2 linked regions of the Homo sapiens genome follow. The protein of the gene in region 1 binds, or shares a complex with, the protein of each later gene. Each region holds a gene or a part of one and is shown in the gene's direction. Other genes may lie near its edges.

Region 1 (6,793 bases):
CAATTTGAAAACCCACTGCCCCAGATGAGCTCCTTGGGTCCCTAAGGCTTGGCCTGTGCATGCCCTGCCAGATGCCTCTTCTCACTTGCAGCTCCAGTCTACACATGTGCTGGCTGAATCCTATAAGTAGATGGTGTCTGTTGACATCCAGAGGTTCTGGAGGGGTGGCTCCCAGGAGACTGCTAGGTAGTTGTTCTGCTTCACTGATGAGTGGGCAGGAGACAAACGTTTACTTATCAAGATAAAGCAGGGAATGCCACCTCCACACCCTCTGGTCCCTGCACACAGTAGGTGTTGAATGGAGTTGATGCAAAGCTGGGAGTCCCTGCTGCAGGGTCAGCACAGTGGACTGTCGGGAAACCAAGGCAGCAACAACCGGTTGGGAAGGGTCCATCAGCGGCCCAGCTTATCCAAGTTCAGGGCAGTTGAAGCCAGCACAGCTCATGTGCCTTTAACAGAGCTTTACAGAACTCGGGCTCTGGTGCTGGGCGATGCAGTCGGAAAGAAGCGCTTCCAGCTTTCATGTGCCATAGTCCTGTAGGATTACAGACAATTCGTTGTCATGTAAGCCATAGCAACCACAAGCATCCTTCACTCAGGCCTGCTGTGTGCTGAGTCCATTCAAGTCACAGGAGATACAGAGACAGAAAGCTGTGAAAGAACTCCCTTCCCTTCTGGAGCTCACCTGGATGGGGCAAACAATAAACAGACAAAATTTAAAAAAATAAGACAGGAAGCAGCTGTTTACGGTTCACAGGAAAAATCCTGCTCATTGGAATGGGCAAAGTATTTAATTCTTAAAACATTTAGTAAGAAGCTACTCTGTGCCAGGCTCTAGTAGGAGTCAGATTACAAAGGGCCTTCTGCATTTAGCTAAGGAGGTTAGACTTCATCTTTGACTCTAGGAACACAGGGATGGGAGAGGGCGTTATTAACAATGCTAGGAGTTGGCGGAAGGCATCCTGGAGGAGGGGGTGTTTGAGCTGGGCCTTTAAGAATGGCTGAGAGGACAGGGTTGGCTGAGTTGGGCCCAAGAATCAGGTTTGAGGCTTCTGTGGGTGTGTCACCAACTGTAAATGGGAAAAATAATCCCCTCTCTGCCCAGACCCAGGACAATAATGAGAGAACACTGGGAGAGTCTTATGACTGGTGTGATTACTGCTGTCTTTCCACCTGCCTATATGGCCAATCAGAAAACACAGAGGAGCCTTCCCTTGTGTGGGTCAGAGGCATCCAGAGGCCTGGCCTCAAGCCACAGTTGCCTCCTCTCCCTGCTCCTGACTTCCCAAAGCTGCAGCTCCCATATTCCTGAGTTGGGAAGGTCCAACATTGTGCTAGAAGAGTGGAACCCAGGACGCATGGAGAAAATCTGGTCTTCCTGGCCGGCAGCGCTTAGGCAGCATCTGGTGCTCACGGGAGCTCCAGGAGGCAATGTGGCCAGGCAGATCCAACTCAGCCTTTGGACACAGACGGGCCTGGCTTCAAGTTCAAGCTCTGCTGGTTAACAGCTGTGAAGCCTTGGGAAAGTAACTCAACCTCACTTCATTTGTCAGGGCAACCACAACACTACCCTCACGGAGCTGCCCCGAGGGTCAGGTGAGGTCTTCATGTGGTTGTGGAATACGGCTCTTGGCACATGCTGGGTGTCCACAAAGAATCCATTTTCTTCCACTTTTCTCTCCCTTTCCTTTCTCTCTTCCCTCTTTTCTTCCTTCTCTGTTTCCTCAAAAAGTGTTTGGTGGAAGAACAGCCCACATTAAGAGCTTTGGAAAGACTTTCGTAAGACACCAACTCACCTCCCACGGAGTCCACGGGCCTGGTGGGGAGGCTTACTACTGGCTAAGAAAGGAGAGACAGCTTCATGAGCGGGCAGTGCAGAATGGGCCAGCAGGGCTGCAGGTGCCGTGGGATCTCAAGGAAGCTGGGAGCTGAGCTGAGTGGCTCTAAAATGTCTTGATGCCCTTAGAAGAGAGAAGATCTTCTGGAGAGAGGAATGATGCAGCCCCCACAAATCACAGAAGGCCTGGGGAGAAAAGGGCGAGCACAGCAAAGCAGGTGGTTACGTAGTCAGATGCCAGCTGCTGGAGAGGTTCAAACTGTTGGCTGTGCACACCAGCCTCACACAGTAGGCAGCAGGGAGCTGGCCCTGGTGGCCACAGGCCCTCAGGGCGCTCTCTTCAGCCACGCGTGCCAGATGTTTTGGAGCAGAAAGGATGTTTCCTGCTTGTACCAGTCAGGGTGGGCTGGGACGTGCTGCAGAAACACATAGCCCTCAAATCTCTGGCACTTAAAATGATGATGGTTTGGCTCTCACCCATGCAAAGGTTGCCGCAGGCAGGAGCAACCCTCCAGGGCACGTAGTGGCCAACAATCTAGGATGCGTCAGTCCAGCGGCACTTCCATCTCGGTCCACACTTCCCCGACCCCGCAGCAGGGTAGGGGCATGGAGAATACAGTGCTGGCTTTCAAGGCCTAAATTGAGTCACAGCTTGTCAGCACCGGGCCATCTCCTCCAAACCCTTCATTTTGCCTGTAAGGACCCTCAGGCCAGGGGTAGGGGAGATGGCTTGGAGTCAGGCCACAGCAGCTGTCTATTGGCCAGTGGGAAGGAGCAGGGCCATCACTTCTGGATGGAGGCCCTGGCTCTGCCCTGCCAATGCCCCCAGTCTGGGTAGGGAGACTCCAGGGAGGAGTCCTGCAACCTAAGATGCCAAATCTTAGGTTGTAGTACAGAGGTGTGGGTTGGCGCACAGGCCACCAGCCATCTGGCTGGTGAGGGAGACAGGAGGAGAAGGCAGTAGAAGGGGAAGAGAAAAGGAAGGGGAAGGAGAGGAGGAGGGAAGAGGAGGCTGAGTCTGGGCAGAAAAATGATGAGGCGTGAAAGGGGCCCGTGAGCTGGGCTGGCACGGAGGCACGACCATTAGCATTTCCCAGGCGGCCGCCCTCGCCTTCAGCCTCACCTTCCCTCTGGCCAGTTGGTGGGCAGGGCCAACAGCGGCTCTGGGCTCCCTTGCTTGCTCAGAGTGGCCCTGCTTGCAGCCCCGCCGGCGTTGGCACGGTGACAGTAGCCAAGTGTGCAAACTTGTCCCATTGTCCGCAGGCCAGGGGGAGCCATGGAAACTGGCTAATATGACACAGGAAAATGTTTGCTGATGGCAATTCTATGGGCTTTGTCCACCTCTTTCTCCATCATGACGACTCGATTTAAGTCCCTAACTGTTTGACTACAAATGCAAGGGGACCGTGCAACGCCAACCTTTTGTCCGGCTGCGCTGAATGGGCAATTCAGGCTTTGTGCAGCTCAATTGAGGAAGCAAACATAAAGACAAGATTCCTGAGAGCTCCAGCTCCCTTCCCATGGATATCCCAGCACCTCGTTAGAGAGTCCTTCCTCGGCCACCTTTTCCGACAGGCATCAGCGCACCTCCTGACCTTGAAGGCCCTCCATCCCCGATCCCTGGGGGATCCTGGCAGGGAGGGTGGTGGGGGTGGCAGGGGGAGACAGAGAGAGAGACAGAGAGACAGGAGAAGAGAGAGTGAGAGCGAGAGAGCCACTCAACACTCAAGGACAGCGGGAAAAGCAGCCCGCCCCGGCTTACCCCGTCCGATTGTCTGTCCGCACTGGAGCATGGCAGCTGTAGGCCTGGAGTCTTTGGGGGAGGTTTGCAAGCCTGTCTCCACTAGGCCCAGCCCCTTCTCAATCCTGGACATTTTAAACACACACACACACACACACACACACACACCCCACCCCCTTGAGAAACCAGGGAACTGAGGTCAAGGGGAGGAGGGGGGTGGAGGCTGAGGAGAGTGGGGCTGAAGGGTAGAAATTTACCGGGAAATGATTGCATTTGGGAGCTGTCTTTTTTGTGATGGTCCCCATGGTGACAATTTGTGACGGCAAAGAATGTGGGAACGGGGCGCCGCCGCCTGATTGGGATGCTTTGTATCTGGAGAGGCGCTCCTGATTGGCCTGAGGGGCCCCCCAGCTCCGGGGAGTTGTCCTCCATTCAGCCCACTCAAGGGTTGCACAACTGCTTCCAGCCGGACGGAGCTCGGCCGGCTGCGCCGGGGCCTGTCCCAGGTCTGCAGTGGGGAACCTGCCGGGCCACGTTGGTGGGGCCTGGGCCGCACCTTCGGTCAGTGTGGAGGCCCGGTGGCTCTGGCCCGACTGGGTGGCGGGTGTGGGGGCAGGCTGGGGCCTGGGGGAGGGGCGAGGTGCCGTGGGTGGCGGCCGAGGAGGCATGAAATTGCTGCAGATGCTTCTTCGGGGGAATCCCTGCTGCCCGCAGCCTGAGATCAGCCCGCAAGGCAGGTCTCGATTAAGTGCCAGACAGGGGTCCTGCCTGGTCCTGCGTGAGAGCTGGGGGTGGAGCGTGGGGACTGAGGAGGGGGGCTGGTGCTCCTCGTGCTGGGGGCAGGAGTGGTGGGAGGGGGAGGCTACCACCAGGGAGGAAGGGGGCTTGGCCTTGCTTTAAAGAGGAACAGTTGCCTCAGCTCAGAGAATAAACACCTCGCTGGCAAGTTGCACACGTTGGCAGCGTGGTGTGTGGGAGATGGGGCAGGCTGGGAGTGTGTGCCAGCCCCAGCAATGCCACCTGTAGCTGGGTCACCTTGGGCGACTTGCTTGACCTTTCTGAGCCTTGGCTGCAAGAAGGGGCACCAGACCCAAGCAGGCTGGGCGAGGCTCTGCTGGTGCCTGCCGCATCCCAGGTGTGCAGGAAGTGCTCAGCCACTTGCACCCACATCCCTCTACCCAGGACTCTGTTTAGGGCTGAGAGGTGCTGGGGTGGGGAGACTGTTTGTAGACAGGTGCTGTGGTCTTTTGGGAGGGCTGGGTGTGGTTGCTTGGAGAGACTCCGATGGCCTGTTTTGTCCCCCAGGTCAGCTCGGTGCCCTTCCTTGGAGCTGCCGGCCACCAGCAGAGCCTACCCTCTTCATGGAAAGCCTCGTGCAGTGGCCCCCTGGTGATGGCATCCGACAGTGATGTGAAGATGCTGCTGAACTTCGTGAACCTGGCGTCCAGCGACATCAAGGCAGCCCTGGATAAGTCCGCACCCTGCCGCCGCTCCGTGGACCATCGCAAGTACCTGCAGAAGCAGCTCAAGCGCTTCTCCCAGAAGTATTCCCGGCTCCCGCGGGGCCTTCCTGGCAGAGCTGCTGAGCCCTACCTGAAAAGGGGGTCTGAGGACCGGCCCAGGAGGCTGCTCCTGGATTTGGGCCCTGATTCCAGCCCCGGCGGGGGTGGGGGCTGCAAGGAGAAGGTGCTGAGGAACCCCTACAGGGAGGAATGTCTTGCTAAGGAGCAGCTCCCACAGAGGCAGCATCCAGAAGCTGCCCAGCCTGGCCAGGTGCCCATGAGGAAAAGACAGCTGCCCGCTTCCTTCTGGGAAGAGCCAAGGCCCACCCACAGCTACCATGTGGGGCTGGAGGGGGGACTGGGCCCCAGGGAGGGACCTCCCTATGAGGGTAAGAAAAATTGCAAGGGCTTGGAGCCCCTGGGACCTGAGACTACCCTGGTGTCCATGTCTCCAAGGGCCCTGGCTGAAAAGGAGCCGCTCAAGATGCCTGGGGTCTCCTTGGTGGGCCGCGTCAATGCCTGGAGTTGCTGCCCCTTCCAGTACCATGGACAGCCCATCTATCCGGGCCCCCTGGGGGCACTGCCTCAGAGTCCTGTCCCCAGCCTGGGCCTTTGGAGGAAGAGCCCAGCCTTTCCCGGGGAGCTGGCGCACCTCTGCAAGGATGTGGACGGCCTGGGGCAGAAGGTGTGCAGGCCCGTGGTGCTGAAACCCATCCCCACCAAGCCAGCCGTGCCCCCACCCATCTTCAATGTCTTTGGCTACCTCTAGCCACGCGGAGAGGGCCTCAGCCCCCACCTCTGGCCTGCAGGAGTGTCGAGGTCCCCGAGGCGCTCTCCTGTGAGGAGGTGGCTGGGCCACAGTGTGGCCTCTTCCGTTTGTGTGCGCATGGGAGTGGAGGGCAGGATTGGGGCAGGGCTCCTCAGGCAGTGACCCTTCAGCCTTGCAGCCTTGGAAGCTGGGAGGCTGGACCTGGTTGGCCCCTCCCCAGGCAGGCCAGGGCCCAGCAGCTTGTCCCGCTGTCCCTGTGCAGACCATAGGTACTGGGATGTTGCCCTTCCTTGCCTTGCAGTCACCCCAGAAGCCAGAGAGACGCATCTGTTTACCTGCCACCCACTCTGCGAGCCAATCTCAGTTGTTGTTCTTGTTCTTCTTGTTCTTTGTAAATATTGAGAAAGTTAAAAGAATAAAGACATTTCTTTTGGAGTTTCCATATCTTGGGTGTCATGAAGTTGAATGAGCCCCACCCAGGCTGAGGGCTGCTGGCAGAGGTGGCTGGTTTCAGGGAGGCCAGGAGCGGCTGAAACCTCTGAGATATCCGGGAATGGGCGCTGGGGGCCAAGATCTTGGTTCAAAGGAAGGAGGGTGAGGAGGGGAGCGGAGGAGCCACTAGGGAAGGACATGCTGGCGTGGACCCCCAAGGGGGTCCAACGTGCTCTGGAGAATAGGTGCTGGAACCAGGGGAGGTGGGGCTGCAGTATCAGCGCCGCCCTGTGCTGTGCGGCCAGACGCTTCCTCTGGGGGTCTCCTTGCCCCACCTGCAGGACAGTGAGATGAGAATGGGTCTCTCTGCAGTGTCTTCTGCTCTGTGTACAGCCGCAGGGCAGCCTCTGTGCCAAGGTGGTTGTGCCCAACTCTGGTCAGAGGGAAAATCAGGCCAAACAGGAGTTTGGTCCCTGTGGACAAAACAGGGGGCTTGACCAAATTGTTTCTCT
Region 2 (7,502 bases), on another chromosome or scaffold:
GCGATCTCGGCTCACCACAACCTCTGCCTCCCGGGTTCAAGCGATTCTCCTGCCTCAGCCTCCCAAGTAGCTAGAATTATAGGCGTGCGCCACCGTGCCCCACTAATTTTGTATTTTTAGTGGAGACGGAGTTTCTCCATGTTGGTCAGGCTGGTCTCCAACTCCCAACCTCAGGTGATCTGCCCACCTTGGCCTCCTAAAGTGCTGAGATTATAGGCATGAGCCACCACTCCCAGCCGTTTTTTGTATTTTTAGTAGAGGCGGGATTTCGCCATGTTTGCCATGCTGGTCTTGAACTCCTGACCTCAGGTGATCCGCCTCGGCCTCCCAAAGTGCTGGGATTACAGGCGTGAGCCACTGCGCCTGGCCTAAGTCTCCCATTTTAAAGATGGGGAAACTGATGCTCCTAGAGGGACAGTAACTTGCTTAATGCCGCAACCCTGGTGAGTGGCAGAGCAGGGATTAGAACCTATGCTCTCCCCTTGGCGTTCTGTCTCCTGCCCTGTGGATTGCAGTGCTTGTACACCCCCTACTCCCCCTAGCCGCCTTCATCCAACAGGCGCGGAAGCTGGAGCAGACTGACTTGGGCCATGCCTTGTCGCTCAGATAAGGTTGGTAGGAGGCAGAAATACTCTGCTCCGACCTGGCAGAAAGCACATAGCTGTTCTGGGGAAGGAGCCATCTCACTGTAGAATCTGTGGAGTCGGGAAGGGGCCCTCGGGTCTTTAAAACACACCCTCCTCTCCCCTTGATGAGCCGGCAGGTGAAGGTTCTCCCTATCTTTTTAGATCTCCTGGGTTGCAAATGTCACAACCTCCTTTGATTTCCACTCTGGAGTCTTGCCCCGGTGACTGTCACAAAGCAATGCCTGTTGCCAAACCTGTGGCTCCTCCTTCTCCTTCCCAGTGGAAGTGGAGGACGTTGGTCCCCAGCTTTGGACCTTGCCTTTCCTGCAGTTGAGGTCAGTCCAGTGGCAGTTGGAAATTCAGGGCTTGTGAGGGTGGCTTTACCTTGCCTGTCTTCCTTTGCCCCCATGACCCTTTGTTGGCCGGGGTTGGACGACAGCTCCCTTTAAAGCTCTGAAATTGGAGCTGAACAGCTGCTGTCCAGTAAAGGGGGGTGAGGGGGCTGTCAGCAGCCAGGAGGGCCCAGGTGGAGGTGGGGGCAGGGCTTTGTCACTGGGGAGAACACGGTCTCCAGCTCCTATCTTCTAATTCCACTTTTGCCTGGACGCTTTCTGAGATGACGGTTCTTCCCTTGCTTTTGGTTTTTCCCGCTACTATCTGGGAGATTCTAATCACACCTGTGTGATCTGGCCCTGGGGCCCTTAGCTGGTGGGGACTGGATATTTGGGAAAATTTCCACTAGAACTCAGGTCTCCAAGATCTATGCCCACGTCCTCCTGCATTTAATACAGGGGGGCTCCTGGAAGGGCCAGAGGATGGGCCAGGCTCCCTGTAGCGGGGGCTGGCTCCTTGGCTTGGTGTGGGCAGGCGGGCCCCCATGGGTGGGGACTCTGCTTCCTTTGACCCAAACTTCATGGGAACAATAGACTTCAGAGGAGTCACCAGGGGCAGGAAATGGGAACTGTGCAGAGCCAGGGGTGACCCTCCTGGGGGATGGGATTGCATATCCGGTAGAGGGTTGGGGGCAGTGCAGAGGGCGCTGGGGAGGGGCTGATGACACATAGGGTGGGCCTCTGGGGTGGGGCCCTCCTCCAAAGGGGGCCGTTGACTCAGTGTGAAGCTAGAGCTCCGTGCCGGTTCTGTGCTGAGCTTTCGGCTCTTACTAGCACAGGGCTCGTGTTTGCCAGCCTCCGCTCGTGCCACGCTCGCCCCTGCCAGGACTTGGTCTTCCCCTTCCCCTCAAGCCCCTGAGATGTCTTTGCGAATCATCCTGGCTGGGATAAAAGGCTGGTGTTGTTGCTCCCTGGCTGGTCTCCACCTTGGCTGTGAGCCTTGGGCAGTTGTGGCTGGAACGGCGATCTTGGGTTGTGGGCAAAGCTCTGGACAGGGAGTCCCCAGGCTGGGGTCGCTGGACAACGTGAGGGATTTCTTTCTTTCTTTTTTTTTTTTTTTGAGACGGAGTTTTGCTTTTGTTGCCCAGGCTGGAGTGCAGTGCTGCAATCTTGGCACACCACAACGTCTGCCTCCTGGATTCAAGCGATTCTCCTGCCTCAGCCTCCTGAGTAGCTGGGATTACAGGTGCCTGCCACCACACCTGGCTAATTTTTTTTTTTTTTTTTTTGTATTTTTAACAGAGACAGGGTATTTCCATGTTGGCCAGGCTGGTCTCGAACTCCCAACCTCAGGTGATCCACCCGCCTCGGCCTCCCAGAGTGCTGGGATTACAGGCGTGAACCACCGTGCGCCTGGCCATGGGGGATTTCTTTAGCCGCAGGCAGAGCGAGACAGTGGGTGGAACGTTCTGGAGGCGGAGGACTCTTGTCTTGCCTCCATCTTTGTAAGGGTCGACCAGACTTTGTGAGGAGGCCACAGCTTACCCTGAGAGAATTGTGAGTCAGGCCACACAAGCTGCTTTGCCTGAGTTCAGGTTGCCGGATTCTCACAGATAGGCTTTGGGGTCCCAAGAGAAGGTGTAGGAGTGACCCCAGAACCACTGCCAGGACCTGGAAGGAGGGTAGGAGTAGGAGAGACAACACATGCTGTCTTGATTTGTTTCTTCAAGGAAGCAAGATGGGGACCCTGGAAATGGCAGACTCCTAGAATTGATTCCTTGCCCAATTCTTGGTTAGATTTTGTTTTTTAATGATTTTTTATTTTTTGAGACAGAGACTCACTTTGTCACCCGGGCTGGAGTTCAGTGGTGCAATCATGGCTCACTCCTTGAACTCCTGGGCTCAAGCAATCCTCATTGCCTTAACCTGAGTAGCTGGGACTACAGGTATACGCCACCACACCTGGCTAATTTGTAAAGTTTTTTTGTGGAGGTAGGGTCTCGCTTTGTTGTCCAGGCAGAACTCAAACTCCTGGGCTCAAGCAATCCTCCTACCTTGGCCTCCCAAAGTGCTAGAACTGCAGATGTGAGCCATCATACCCTGCCAATTTAAAATTTTCTAGTAGCCACCTTAAAAAAAAAAAGTGAAGTTAATGTTGGTGTTTTCTTAAACCCTAGTGTTATCAAAAATAATTTCAGTGTAATAATTTTTTTTTGAGACGGAGTCTCGCTCTTTCGCCCAGGCTGGAGGGCAGTGGGGTGATCTTGGCTCACTGCAAGCTCCGCCTCCCGGGTTCACTCCATTCTCCTGCCTCAGCCTCCCCAGTAGCTGGGACTACAGGCACCCGCCACCTAATTTTTTTGTATTTTTTAGTAGAGACGGGGTTTCACCATGTTAGCCAGGATGGTCTTGATCTCTCTACCTTGTGATCCACCCATCTCGGCCTCCCAAAGTGCTGGGATTACAGGCGTGAGCCACCGCGCCCGGCCATAAATTTTTTTAAATTATCATTATTATTATTATCGTAGACAGTGTCTTGCTCTGTCACCCAGGATGGAGTGCAGTGATGCGGTCATGGCTTATGCAGCCTTGACCTCCCAGGATCAAGCAATCCTCCCACCTCAGCCTCCTCAGTAGCTGGGACTGCAGGTGTACACGGTTGCACTCAGCCTAGGTTAGATTTTTGAACAAAAATATGTGGAGAGTGTGAAAATGAAGTGAGATACCTAGTAGCCAACCTGGGTTCACTCTACCAAGTCTTGGAGAAAACAACTCTAACTTGGGTGGAGGAATGTTCAGTAAGCCTTTTCAGTCTAATGATCTTCTTGGTACAAGAGAAAGCAGTGTGGTCTGGCTGATACAGCAGGGAGATGGATGTGTGACTGCTTGACCCACTACGCTGGATGCTGACTCCTAACTCCTGAGCTTGTGTTACTGTGAAGAGGTCCCCGTGATGTGCCGCAGGGCTGTCTTTGGCTTAGTCCTCTATGTTTTCCATAGATACGAGCCTCTCCCAGGAGCCTGTGTGGCCTGTGTCTTCTGTTTCTCATTTCTTTTTCTTTCTTTTTTTTTTTTTGAGATGGGTCTTGCTCTGTCACCAGGCTGGAGTGCAGTGGCGTGATCTTGGCTCACTGCAACCTCTGCCTCCTGGGTTCAAGCAATTCTCATGCCTCAGCCTCCCAAGTAGCTGGGATTACAAGCACACGCCACCATGCCCAGCTAATTTTTTTGTATTTTTAGTAGAAACAGGGTTTCACCATATTGGTCAGACTGGTTTCGAACTCCTGACCTTGTGATCTGCCCGCCTTGACCTCCCAGAGTGTTGGTATTACAGGTGTGAGCCACCATGCCCGGCGTATTTCTTTTTTTTGAGATGGAGTCTCGCCCTATTGCCTAGGCCGGAGTACAGTGGTGCGATCTCGGCTCACTGCAACCTCCGCCTCCTGGGTTCAAGCGATTCTCCTGCCTCAGCTTCCTGAGTAGCTGGGATTACAGGCACCTGCCACCACGCCTGGCTAATTTTTGTATTTTTAGTAGAAATGTGGTTTCACCATGCTGGCCAGGCTGGTCTTGAACTCCCGACCTCAGGCGATCCACCTGCCTTGGCCTCCCAAAGTGCTGGGATTACAGGAGTGAACCACCGCACCTGACCCTGTTTCTCGTTTTTATGGGCGTTGAGGGTAGCAAACATTGGCTGATAGAACCAGGGTTCAAAATCATCTCAGTTGACTGGAATGCTGCCATTAAGTAGAAAGATGAAGTTTAAAAATATTTCTCTCTTAAAATTAATATATGTACATTGTAGGAACCCTGGAAAATAAAGAAAGGCATAAAGGAAAAAAATGATACATAATACTATAATTCGGGTGGGCTGGTATTTCGGTGAATGTCCTTCCAAATTTGTGTTCATGCAAATCTATATATTTTAACATAATTGCAATTATACTCTATCCCGTTTTTTTCCCTACTGAATGCTATCTAATGGGTAATAGTGCATGTCATAAAAAATACTTAAAACCATAATTTTAAGGATCCAAGTAACATTGCATTCTATGACTATACTATATTTAACTATGCCCTACTGACTTTAAAACATTGTTTTTAGTTTTTAGCTTTTAAAAATTACTTGACATTGAGCAATGTTGAACATATACTTATCTCAAGAAGAAATGTAATAGGTCTAAGTGTAACATCCTGCATTTAAGTTCAAAGCATCAATTATGTAAGTCTAGAATAGAGTGGGACTTACTCTTCATTCATGTTGAGGGAAAAGGCTTGGGGTTTTGGGCTGAAAAACGAAGGAAGAGGGAAATGAACATTTTAATGCCTGTTAGGTGCTAGACCATTATTCTAGACATTTCTGCCTTCATCATCTCATTTCATCCTCTCAGCCCTGTGAGAAAGGTTTGGTTTGTTTTTGTTTTGTTTTTCAACCTCTACTTTACAGAGGGGACACTGTAGAAGTTATACTGCAGTTGGAGTTTGGACCCAGGTCAATCTGACTCTCAAACTGCCCCATTAAACCATAAGCCTGTGTGGGCCAGTGCTGTGGTAAGGTCTGTGTCAAGGGAAACCTTTACTCACTAAGCTCTGTGACCCTCTGGCCACATTGGAAGCCACATCTGGTTTTGGAAAGTTTATATATCCTGAGCTGTTAAGTATTGAGCTCGCCATTTTTGTGGGTCTTCCTCTACCCCCAACCAGTGATCTGATCTCAAACATGTGGGTCTTTTTTTTTTTTTTTTTTTTGAGACGGAGTTTCGCTCTTGTTGCTCAGGTTGGAGTGCAATGGCGTGATCTCGACTCACCGCAGCCTCCACCTTCCGGGTTCAAGCGATTCTCCTGCCACAGCCTCCTGAGTAGCTGGAATTACGGGCATTTGCCACCATGCCTGGCTAATTTTGTATTTTTAGTAAAGATAGGGTTTTTCCATGTTGGCCAGGCTGGTCTCGAACTCCCGACCTCAGGTGATCTGCCCACCTCGGCCTCCCAAAGTGCTGGGATTACAGGTGTGAGCCACCGCGCCCGGCCTTTTTTTTTTTTTTTTTTTTTTTTTTTGTGAGACAGGGTCTTAACTCTGTCACCCAGGCTAGAGTGCAGCGTTGCAATCACAGCTCACTGTGGCCTCAACCTCCCGCGCCCAAGTGATCCTCCCACCTCAGCTTTCTCAGCTACTCAGGTCTCAGTAGCTGGGACCACAGGTGATGCCATGCCCGCCTAACATTTTTTTTGTTTTAATTTTTATTTTTCATAGAGACAGGATCTTGCTGTGTTTCCCAGGCTGGTGTTTTTTTTGTTTTGTTTTGTTTTAATAGATAGGATCTTGCTCTGTTGCCCAGGCTGGAGTGCAGTGGTGTGATCATAGCTCACTGTAGCCTCAAACTCCTGCACTCAGATGGTCCTCCTGCCTCAGTCTCCCAAGTAGCTGGGATGACAGGTTTGTGCCACCATGCCCTGCCAATTTTTAAAACTTTTTGTAGAAACAAGGTCTTGCTATCTTTATTTTGCCCAGGCTGGTCTTAAACTCCTCGCCTCAAGCGATCCTCCAGCTTCAGCCTCCCAAAGTGCTGGGATTACAGGTATGAGCCACTGTGCTGGGCCTGTGAGTGTCTTAACAGAGGCTGGATGAGGACTTAGAACCTGCCCAGCATCTGGGTGCTGTCATTTCTCATTTCTAGAAGGTAGGCACCCTTTACAGCAGTAGCAGGTTAGGTCCATCTGACCTGAAGTCTATTACTTCATTATGTAAAACCACATAAAACTAGTGGGCCCTCTGTATCTGTAGGTTCCACATGGATTCGACCCACCCTGGATCGACAGTGTTCAGGGGAAAACATTCCACAGAGTTCCAGAAAGCAAAACTTGAATTTGCTGCTCACTGAATGCTGCATTGAATCCATGCAAATGAAGTGATGTGCATGCGTTGTGTTAGGTATGATAAGTTCTCTAGAAATGATTTAAAGCACATGGGAGGATGTGCGTAAGTTATGTGCAAACACTGTACCGTTTTATATGAGGGACTTGAGCATCCTCGGGTTTCAGTATCCTTAGAGGCCTTGGAACCGATCACCCACAGATACCAAAGGACTACTGTACATAGAGTTTCATTATGTAGAACTTACTAGGGATGCTTTGGAGGAGTCTCTGCCCTGCATGGGAAAGGACTAGGTCACCTCCAGGGCCACTGCTTCCTCGAAGATTTTGTGGTCCTGGGCCTCAGTTTCTCCACATATCAGCATGCGGGGATTCCACTAGATGAAACACTTCGGGATTCCTGCTACAGGGAGGTAGTACAGCGAAGCTGCACCTGGAGTTGGAGGCAAGGCTTGGGACGAGGGTGCAGTGTCTGAGCAGTCAGAGGAAGCAGAATGGGGAGATGAGGGAATTATTGCGTGGCTGCCATCGTCTTTGTCCAAACAAGCACGGTGTTAGGAACAGGCGGAATCTGGGTCTTGCCCTGAGGCTGGAGGGTGGGGAAGATGACCCCCCACAACCCCAGAGAGCAGTGGCTATCAGTGCAGACTCCAGAGTGGTGCTGTCCAAT

What was found. The genes of interacting proteins can lie anywhere in the genome.
Region 2: the proteins of FAM181A (region 1) and TEAD4 are in contact, whole or in part, in a crystal structure (PDB 6SEN), measured with the Homo sapiens proteins. Residues at the interface, in NP_612353.3 of Homo sapiens: Pro191, Met192, Arg195, Gln196, Leu197, Pro198, Ser200, Phe201, Trp202, Glu203, Glu204, Pro205; in NP_003204.2 of Homo sapiens: Glu263, Ala264, Val265, Gln269, Ile270, Asp272, Lys273, Leu295, Lys297, Trp299, Glu391, Val414, Glu416, Ser418, Ala419, Ser420, Gly423, Gln425, His426, His427, Tyr429.

What each region holds. Positions count from the first base shown.
Region 1 is NC_000014.9:93,923,316-93,930,108, forward strand, and holds FAM181A (protein FAM181A), read left to right. Parts: upstream 1-4,028; 5' UTR 4,029-4,139; exon of another isoform or gene 4,140-4,311; intron 4,312-4,883; coding exon of another isoform or gene 4,884-4,970; coding exon 4,971-5,849; 3' UTR 5,850-6,293; downstream 6,294-6,793.
Region 2 is NC_000012.12:2,962,397-2,969,898, forward strand, and holds part of TEAD4 (transcriptional enhancer factor TEF-3), read left to right. Parts: intron 1-7,502. UniProt on the Homo sapiens protein: Transcription factor which plays a key role in the Hippo signaling pathway, a pathway involved in organ size control and tumor suppression by restricting proliferation and promoting apoptosis.